2 separate regions of the Homo sapiens genome follow, and region 1 is linked to region 2. The links come from fine-mapping of genetic effects on gene expression. Tissue or cell type: whole blood. Region 2 holds a variant in brackets; the other region holds the start of a gene. All regions are shown on one strand. Distances are from middle to middle.

What was found. PIP is the estimated chance that this variant, and not a neighbour inherited with it, causes the effect.
Region 1: TMED3 starts here. The variant in region 2 is fine-mapped to the expression of TMED3 in whole blood (INTERVAL, PIP above 0.99).

The regions. Positions count from the first base shown.
Region 1 is chr15:79,309,109-79,314,257 of GRCh38, forward strand. It overlaps TMED3 (transmembrane p24 trafficking protein 3), which reads left to right and starts at 2,004. Exons shown (of 3, transcript NM_007364.4): 1 at 2,004-2,309; 2 at 4,649-4,897. The coding sequence starts at 2,142. RefSeq lists silencers at 1,848-1,897, 2,108-2,177.
Region 2 is chr15:79,091,577-79,096,725 of GRCh38, forward strand. No RefSeq gene overlaps it. Among named protein-coding and RNA genes, the nearest start is that of RASGRF1, 3.4 kb to the left of the region's middle. The variant T/G (reference allele first, on the strand shown) is at 2,027.

The sequences.
Region 1 (5,149 bases), 220 kb after region 2:
AGAACCGAGGTGTCCCAGCCAACAGCCTGCATGCTCTGACTAGAGCTTCTTCAATGTCAGCTCCTCCCCTGAACTTATGCAGGTGTTTTCTTGGAACTTAAATGTAAGACTTAACATTTAATCCGGAGGAATTTATTTTGATTTTTAGAGATGGGGTCTCCCTTTGTCATCCATGCTGGAGTGCAGTAGTGCAATCACAGTTCACTGTAGCCTCAGACACCTGGTGTCAAGCAATCCTCCCACCTCAGCATCCCAAGTAGCTGGGACTACAGACCCACACCACCATGCCTGGTTAATTTTTGTTTGTTTGTTTTTGTAGAAACGAGGTTTCACTATGTTGCCCAGGCTAGATTCGAACTCCTGGCTTCAAACAATCCTCCTGCCTCAGCCTCCCCAAATACTGGGATACAGGCATGAGCTATGGTGCCCAGCCCGAAATTTCTTTTTGTTAGTCTTAGCAGAGCACTCCACCTGTGCCAGGGCAATCGTGTTTTTTTTTTGTTTGTTTGTTTTGTTTTTTTGAGACGCAGTCTTGCTCTGTCGCCAGGTTGCAAACTCCACCTCCCAGGTTCAAGCAATACCCCTGCCTCCCTGCCTCAGCCTCCCGAGTAGCTGGGACTACAGGCACGCACCACCACCCCCAGCTAATTTTTGTATTTTTAGTCGAGAAGGGGTTTCACCACATTGGCCAGGATGATCTCGATCTCTTGACCTCGTGATCCACCCGCCTCAGCCTCCCAAAGTGCTGGGATTACAGGCGTGAGCCACCACTCCCGGCCAATTGTGGTTTTATATCTGTCATTTATTTCTCCACTTAGTTCATCTAGATCAGATGATTATTACTTCCATGTTTTCTATCAGTTCCTAAAAAAAAAAAAAACGTGAAATAGGACCGTGCCAGGGAAGGAAGCTTAAGGGACACTACTAAACACCTCTTCCATGCCTGTCACTGAGCCAGTCAATATTATTAACTATGTTATGCATGCATGTTATTTCCAAGCCTACAGATTGCTTTCACACATTAGCGTGTTCATCCATAGTGAATGTGGCCAGCGGAAATCTATATGGGCAGTAACATTCTTTCCTGAAGTCAAGATATACCACGTCTAGTAATGCTCTCCTGAATAAGTTATTTATTGAGTATCGACATCACAATCTACGTCTTTTCTCTTTGTTTATTGGATCACAGTGAATATAAAACTATACCTATAGTTACGATTATACAAAAGAATCTTAAGTCAGTGGTCATGGGTAAGACAGTAAACCAATTTATCTGCTTTCAGAGCTTTTAAGAAGTCAAAGTGCAAAAATGACAGTTTTGTGCAAAAAGAATTTTCAACGAGCCTGACAGCCAAAATATACCTGAAGTCGCTGCGAGACTTTACTTGGATTTTCATGAGATCGTTTGTGTGTGAGCACGCTCGTGTTTTTCCCAGAGCAGGTGTAATGATGGGTCTTTACTTACTCTCCCCACTCCCCACCCCCTTCGCACACTCTTTCACCTTGGGAAGGGTATGGGAATGAAGAAAGGAGTGTTAATCGGGTTCCCAGCGTTCCCTTATCTTTCACCTAGCTCCCTAACTACTGTGGATGTTAGGTTTGGGCACACCCATTTCAAGACAAGGAGACTGGTTCTCGAGGGAAGTGTGAGACTGAAGTTACAGAGCCTGTCAAAAGCGGAGCCTTATAGAGGGAGTAAAATCCCACGTGCTTCGTGCTGCAGCAGCTGGAGGGTGGACCTGGGTCGACCTGGGGGGATGCTCAGCCCTGCGGGTCCGGGAGCGCGCAGAACAGCGGGGAGGGCTTCTCCCTCTTCTGGGTAGGGGCGCGCTAGGTGGAGCCCCACCTCCCCTCCGCGGAGACCCACCCTCCGAGCCGGGAGAGGCGTTGCGGGGGGGTGGGGGGGGCGTGTCCCCTGGCGCAGCGCGGCCAGCGCGCACGCGCAGCGGGCGGAAGGTGCCCGGGCCCACTTTGAGCGCGCGGCTGCGCACTGAGCCGCCGGCCCTCCCGGAAGCGCAGAGCTCCGCTGGTGCCACGTCTATCCCCTTACATCCTCCTAGGACCCGGTCGGTAGTCGTCGCCCCAGCCCGCCGGGGGCGCAGCGCCCGAGCCGCGGCCCTCGAGACGGGACCGAGAGCATCATGGGCAGCACTGTCCCGCGCTCCGCCTCCGTGCTGCTTCTGCTGCTGCTCCTGCGCCGGGCCGAGCAGCCCTGCGGGGCCGAGCTCACCTTCGAGCTGCCGGACAACGCCAAGCAGTGCTTCCACGAGGAGGTGGAGCAGGGCGTGAAGTTCTCCCTGGATTACCAGGTGAGGCCGGGCGCCCGGCAGCGCTCCCTTCTCCCTCCACTCCCAGGTCTCACCTGGACACTGGCTAGCCCCTGACTGGAGGCGCTCGAATTAGCCACAGGCTACAGGGAGGCTGCATGGGGTGGGAGTCCCCGGAGACCAGTTGACTTCCCCGTGAGGAGGAAGGTTTGGGTCATCAGGGCCCACCCGAGACGAGCCTGGCCAGCGAGGAGGTAGTCAGCGCCGCAGGTGCGAGCCCGGGATGGGGACGCCAGGGCGGATCCCGCAGCCTGGGGAGCTGGCCAAAGAGATATCCGCAGGCCCCCGAGACACTAACCAACGGCAGTTCTGATCGGCTGGACACAGGCTCTCTAACCCCAGTCTCTTAGACCACCTTGTGCCTTCGAGTACTGAAAAATGGCAGCAAGAGGAAGTGGGCTCATAGTTTTAGTTTATTCCTCCCCTCTCCAGCGTTTAAAGTTGGAGTGAGGTGAGGGCAGCAGAAGTGAGAATGGGCACTTTGGAAAGGAGGGATCAGTGCAGCCATTGAGGCCTGGCGGTGTTTACAAGGAGCGGTGTGGCTGCAAGACTTGGCTCTTGCCATATGGCTTAGAAAAGCTCAGTTCCTGTATTCCTGTCTCCTTTGAGAGATCCCGTGGCCCACAGGTGACAGGAGCAGGTCTTGAGTGAGTAGTCTGCCCCGATATTTAGTGAGCAGGTCTAGGGTTGGGGGCCAAGTGGGCATCATACTCAGACAGCTATCTGCTTGTGGACGCATGCTGATAGGCACTTCAGAAATGAGGGGCCACGGGCAGCAGGAATGGGGGCAAGCTATTTGACCAGTTCCTCTGTGGTTAGAGGCACTGAAGGAAGCTTGCGCTTGGAGACAACTTCTATGTGGTAGTCTCAGTCACTGATTTGTCCACTTTCAGGTCTTTGTGGACAACATGCAAATTGTGACTGGGTTAACATGGGCAACCTAGGTGCAATGACAAAAAGAATGATAATTCTGTGGTTGCAGGGACCTCAGATGTCATCTGGTCACTGCCAGGGCGGAAATCCCTTGTCAAAGTGTGTCCAGCCTGGGTTTAAACACACTTAGCAACAGGATACTCACTGCTTTTTGCAAAGCTTGCTGAGCAGGACTAGTAACTTTTGTCCGGACAAAGAGGCCATTTAAATTTGGAAGCAGATGGAGGCCATTGACCGTGTCCTTTGATGGATCTTGGTTATAGCCATTGCCTACCTGTGAGATTTTGCTTTATGTGGGTCTTATTTTTCTTATGTTACAAGGAGAGTTTGAACTAAATGATTCCCAAAGACTCTTCCACCGCTGACACTCAGAAATTCCATGAATACTTCGATCAATATTTTTCTTCTCCTTGCATTCAGTCATTAATAATATATTGTTAATAGCTACTTGACCCATTCAGCAAGCCAAGAATGACCCTTGCTGGTGGGGGGAGGGGGAACACCTGTCTGTTATTGGAACGGAGAAGCAGGAGGTGCAGCATGCATGCTCTAGGGTGGCCCCCAAATCAGATCCCACATCTCCACTGCAACCCCAGGGGGTTAGTTTGCAGTCTGACGATTGTCCAGTAATTGGCTGGCACTTTTGGGGCCCTTGCTAAATTTATGTTGGACACCGTGCTAAACACTTTAGGTGTGATAACTTATTGACTCCTCACTTCATGGATAAAGACATATCCTCAGAGAATAAAGTAACTTGTCTAGGGTCACATGGCTAATGAGTGGCAGTGCCCTAAATCAGTGATTTGCTGTGTGTCTTGTGTTAAGTATTGAACAAAGATAAAGAATCGGTGGCATCTAGTTGCATTGGAATAGTTTCTTGGACATCCCTCCTCATCTTGCTCTTGATTTCGGGAAGCTTTATCAGCACCATCTCAGGAAGAGCAGTTATCCTGGGGTATGTTCATTCATGCTTCAGAATAGTGCAATAGGTAAATGTTTAGGCACTGGAACCAAAAGCTCTCAAGGCAGATCTCATCTCACCACTTTCTCTTGTGTAACCTTAGGGAATTTACTTAACCTTGGAACCTCAGTTTCTTCTTCTGTAAAATGGAAAGGATTAGGCTCATTGAAACCCTGCAGAGCAAACTTGGGAGTCAGGCAGGCATAGATTCAAATCTTAGCCCTTTCACTTTCAAGCAGTGTGACCACAGCCAATTTATTTAACCTTGCTCAGCCTTAGTAAAATGAGAAGTGGCGTAGCACCTGCCTTAGAAAGTTTTGAAGATGAAGTGACAGAAATGTTTGTAGAGTCTGATCACAGTGTCTGGTTGGCATTTGGTAAGTGGTGGTTGCTCCTTTGATAACAGCAATTTTTTTATGGTTGTCAGGTCATCACTGGAGGCCACTACGATGTTGACTGCTATGTAGAGGACCCCCAGGGGAACACCATCTACAGAGAAACGAAGAAGCAGTACGACAGCTTCACGTACCGGGCTGAAGTCAAGGGCGTTTATCAGTTTTGCTTCAGTAATGAGTTTTCCACCTTCTCTCACAAGACCGTCTACTTTGACTTTCAAGTGGGCGATGAGCCTCCCATTCTCCCAGACATGGGGAACAGGGTCACAGCTCTCACCCAGGTGAGTGAACATTAGCAGTTCGGGGCTGCTGAACCCCCTAGCGTGTTCCTCTTCATTGGCCTCTGTCTAGGCTGGTGGTGGGAGTCATCATCCATCCAGCTCCCAGTCTGGAAGTCTCAGGGTTGGTTTTGTCTCTTTCTTCATACCTAGTCCTAAAGGATGCCATGCTCTTCTTTCGATCTTCCTTTCCACTCTCTAACCAGGTCCCTGCAGTACTTTCCTCTGACATTCCTGTCTCTACTCTTTCATTCC
Region 2 (5,149 bases):
TTTTCCGTTCTTATTTTTAGCTCTCATTCGCCTACACAGTTACACGGCATTTATCCGAGAACGTCACAGCGCCCGCATGCTGCACCGGGAGGGCGCGCGGGCCGCCGGGCGAGCCGGGAGCTGGGGCGGGGAGCGCGCATCGCTGTCTGCCGCAGAGGGCAGCGAGCTCGCCCCGACCCGGAGCAAGCCGCGCCTGGCCCGGGCGCTTTGCAGCGGGGATGGGTGCCCGCGCAGCCCTGTGAAGGAAAGACACCATCTTTCCGCACGGAAACTGCGTATACCCCTCCCCCGACACACACACACACACACACACACACACACACACACACACACACCCCACACTCACACACAGCACACACCACACACGCACAGATACACACCACACACCACACACCCACACACCACACACACCACACACACACACCACACACACCACACACACACACCGCACACACCACACACAAACCATACACCACACACACCACACACGCACACACACACGCCACACACACCGCATACACAAACACCACACACCACACACACACACCATACACCACACACCAACACACCACACACACACCACACACCCAAACACCACACACACCAAACACACACCACACACCCTACACACACACCACTCCCCACACCCCCCCACACCCCACCACACACACGCCACACACACCACACACAGACACCACACACATGCCACACACCACACACACACCACACACACACCACACACCACACACACACCACACACATGCCACACACCACACACATACCACATGCCACATACACACCCCCCACACTCCCCCACACCCCCCGCCACACACACACACAACCCACACCATACAAACACCACACACTACACACAACACCCCCACACTCCCCACACCACACACCACACACCACACACACTACACACACCACACCCACATACCACACACACCCCTACACACCCCTACACACCACACACACCCACACCCACACATACACCACACACCAGACCACACACCACACATACCACACACACCATGCACACCACACCACACACACCACACCACACACACACCACATAACACACCCCTCCCACAGACCAAACCTGGGCTGCACACACACACGCATCACACCTCACACAACACATGCAGCACACCACACACACATACACACACACATACACACACACACCCTAGTTTGGAGCCCTAGGGAAGGGCTTGGAAACCAGGCAGCCCTGTGTAGGTCACGGAAGAATCCACAGAGAAGCTCTGCTGTGGAGGAATGGAGCTGCCCCTGTCCTGAGCACAGTGAGGCAGGCCTGTGTTCCTGGAGTGGGAGCATTTTGGGGGAGGAACTGGCCTTGTTAACCTTAGTCCTCCCTCTAGTGCCATCGTTCCAGTCCTAGGGACCCCAAGGACTCAGTGGTGCTGATTTTTCTTCACAAATAATGAAAATAGGCTAGATGGCTAAGCCTTTTCATTCAGTCTTAATTTTCCCTACACTATCACCATCTTTTCTTCTCATTTGCTCTCTTCATGGAAGCAGAGTTTGCAGGATTGAGGTTCTTAATCTGGCCTTTCTTTATCTAAACTCTTTTATTCGGAAGTCTGTTACAGAAGCCAAGAAAACTTCAGGGAAGGGGCACTGTTCTAAGTGCTTTAGATCAATTAAGCCATTGAATCGTCATGCAACCCAATGTAGTAAGTTTATTTTTTTCCCCAATGAGCTCCATTGTACAGACGGGGAAACTGATGCATGGGAGAGTTGAATGACTTGCTCAGGGCCGCTCAGCTAGGAAGCAGCGGAGGTTGGATTTGAACGGGGCAGTCTGTCCCAGAGGTCTTTGTAGAGCTAAGTGGGTGGTCCCTGGGTTGCAGGGAGGTTGGCTTTTATCCCAAGAGGGGGTACGATGGTCAAGAGAGGGTCTCCCAGGTAGGCTGGAGTCAAGGCTGAGCCTGCACAGAGGCTGCTGTGGCAGAGGGACTTATGGTACATAGGTTCTGAACCTGGGCTGCACATCAGAATCACC[T/G]GGGAGCACTTAACAAGCACTTCCCAGAGATCATGGGTGGGCTAGCTACACTTTCATGGGTAGTTGTAATGTGCAGTGAAGGTGGAGAACCGCTCATATACGGGAGAACTCATGATATGGTCACGTGCACATGAATCACCTGGGGATCTTGTGAAAATGCAGATTCTCTTTCAGTGGATCTGGGACAGGACCTGATAATCTGCATTTCTAACAAGTTCCCTGGTCATGAAAAGCTGCTGGTTTGCAGACCACACTTTGAAAGTTCTAGGGCACTCGAGAGGTGGGAGGCAATGGGATTCATTCATTCATTCACTCATTCACACACATTTCATTCCACTAGTGTTCATTTAGCCCTTCATCTGTGCCAGGCATGGGTGGGCCACTGGGGATACAGTGATAAACAAAATACAGTCCCTGTCTTACAAGGGATGCCCAAGCATGCCTTCTCTGTCTGACCCTTAGTGTAGCAGGAAGAAAACCATCTTCCCTTGGATCTGGGGGAAAGATTCCGATGAGAGGTGGCAGGCGGATTGCCTGAGCTCAGGAGTTCGAGATGAGCCTGGGCAACACGGTAAAACCCTGTCTCTACTAAAATACAAAAAAATTAGCCAGGTGTGGTGGCACACACCTGTAGTCCCAGCTACTCAGGAGGCTGAGGCAGGAGAGTTGCTTGAACCCGGAAGGCGGGGGTTGCAGTGAGCTGAGATCGCACCACTGCAGTCCAGCCTGGGTGACAGAGCGAGACTCTGTCTCCAAAAAAAAAAAAAAAAAAAAAAAAAAATGAACCCACTTCAGTGAGTCTCAGCCCTGGTGCACTTTGGAACCACCTGGAGATGTTTTAAAAATCTCTGTGCTCAGGCTGAACCCCAGGCCAATTAAGTCAGAAACTTTGAGGGTGGGCCCTGGGCATCTGTGCTTTTAAAAGCTCCCCAGATGATTCCAATGCACAGCTGGGGTTGAGAACCACTGGTCTAAAGCCTGGGCCAAGAACATCTGCTCTCCACTCCCTCCTTCCCCTTGCTGGCATTGGGGAGTCTGAGCCACCTCCTTTTGCTGGTCTTGGAGTTACAGGAATTCCTCGTGGGCCAGTCCATGCAGGAGGGCTGGGCTTGGCTTAAAACCTCTCTGTGAGAAAGAGGGGGGTGGCATCAGCCCTGGCGCTTTGATTACTCCCATCTGAGCTGTGTGCATATTGATTTCTCTCCAGTCCCCACAGCTGGAAACCGGAGAAGAGCTGATTGGCCCCTCTGTGGTCGTTTGCCTCAATACTAGTCAGAGCTCAGAGCCCCTGGAAGGTGCTTAAGTTAGCTGGCTAAGAAGACAACGTTTACCAGGCCGGCCCTAGCTTGGGCTGGGGTGGGGAATGCCAAGAAGGGGGTAGGCATTCCCTGCCATAGCTGGTGGAAGTGGGCACACCTAGCTCTCATGTGTGCTGTCCACTAGTCCTGAGGTCAACCCTCCCTCAAAGGTGGAGAGGATGTCTACAGGAGCACCGTAGGTGCATCTGGGCTTTGCCATGCTTCATTCCATTCTCCCAAGAAGGATTTGCATAAGGGTTAATAATCCCATTCACAGATGGGAAAACTGAGGCCCAGACAGTGGAAACAACATGCACAGAGTCTTACAGGGAGGAGCTGGGATGAGGTACTCTGACTGCTCGTCCAGGCCTCATCCCAGAAGAACTGGCTTCCTGGATTTCCCACCTCCCAGCCCTGTGGGCTGAGGTCTCTGTAGATAAAGAATCAAGAAGGAGAATTAAGGAATATTTTGGTGGGTTTGGTCTCTGCATTTAGAAATGGCTAGCTAATGACAGGGACATTGCCCAGTTCAAAATCCTGCTAAGTCTTCATGTGGGATTTTGATTAGACTTTGGACTGGAGCTCAACTTAAGCATTTGTTGAGATGGGTGTCCTGTGGGTCTGACTGGATGGGAGGTGCCCGCTAGTGAGGATTTCTAGTGTGTGTGTGTGTGTGTGTGTGTGTGTGTGTGTATGTGTGTGTGTGATGTGTGTTGTCTATTGCATGTGTGGAAGTTTCTGAGTGGTATGGTGTGTATGTGTGTGGGGCATGCAGCGTGTGTGTGGATGGAATATCTAGAGAACCTCTGCTTCCTTGGCAACATATTCCATAAGAAAAATGTAGTTTCCATGTCATTTAAAGAAATGAAGACTTAAGCACAAGGGGTCAGAAGCAGACTTGGAAATGGAGGCTTTGCCCTTGGGGATTTACTACTCCAACTTTGGGCTCAATTGGTCAGCTTTGCCCAGACATCCAACTGCGGACACCAGCGATTTACGCTTTTACTTTCTAGCCAATGAAAATAGCCATAGTATTCCGTTTGATTAAAATTACTGCAGGCTCTTTGTAAAAAACTTAGACAATATAGAAAATAAACAGATAATTTCTCCAATGATCACTTTTTTCTATACAATCCTCTTTTCCTAAGTAAATATATCTACCAAAGTGTGTTTCTGGAATACAGAAACTATGCTATGCTATTTTATGATCTCAATCTCTTGCTGTCTCTTTACTTAACAGTATGTGGGGACATTTTAAATATTACTACAGATTTAATTAATGGATTCTTTCTGATTGGGGATTTAGGTTGTTTTCAATTCATAGTTTTTGGAAATAATGCAATTAATATCTTTTTATATACACTTCGCTCTCTTAGGCTGAATTTCTGAAAGTTGCACTTCGGGGTTAAAATGATGCACATTTGCAACATTGGTTTGTGTTACTTGATTTTCAGAGAGCTTTTACTCCTTACATGGCTACCAGCAGTGGATGAAACAGTTCATTTCTCCATTGACTTGTCAATCCTGGATATTAATATTGCCAGTTTCTTAAATATTTGCCCATTTTGAAAGGGCAAAAAATGATATTCCTTCTTGTATTAATTTTAATTTCTTTTTAAAGTTGTGAGGTTAGACATTTTAACATGTTTACAGTCATTCACATTTGTTCTTTTTGAATTTTTGTTTTATATCTTTATTTTGGCAGTCGTGTTTATATTTTTCTTGTAGATTTATCACAGTGTTTTATATATTAGGGATATTAACCATTGGCTATCATACATGCTGGAAATAGTGCTGTCTTTTTCTCATTGTGGTAAAATACACA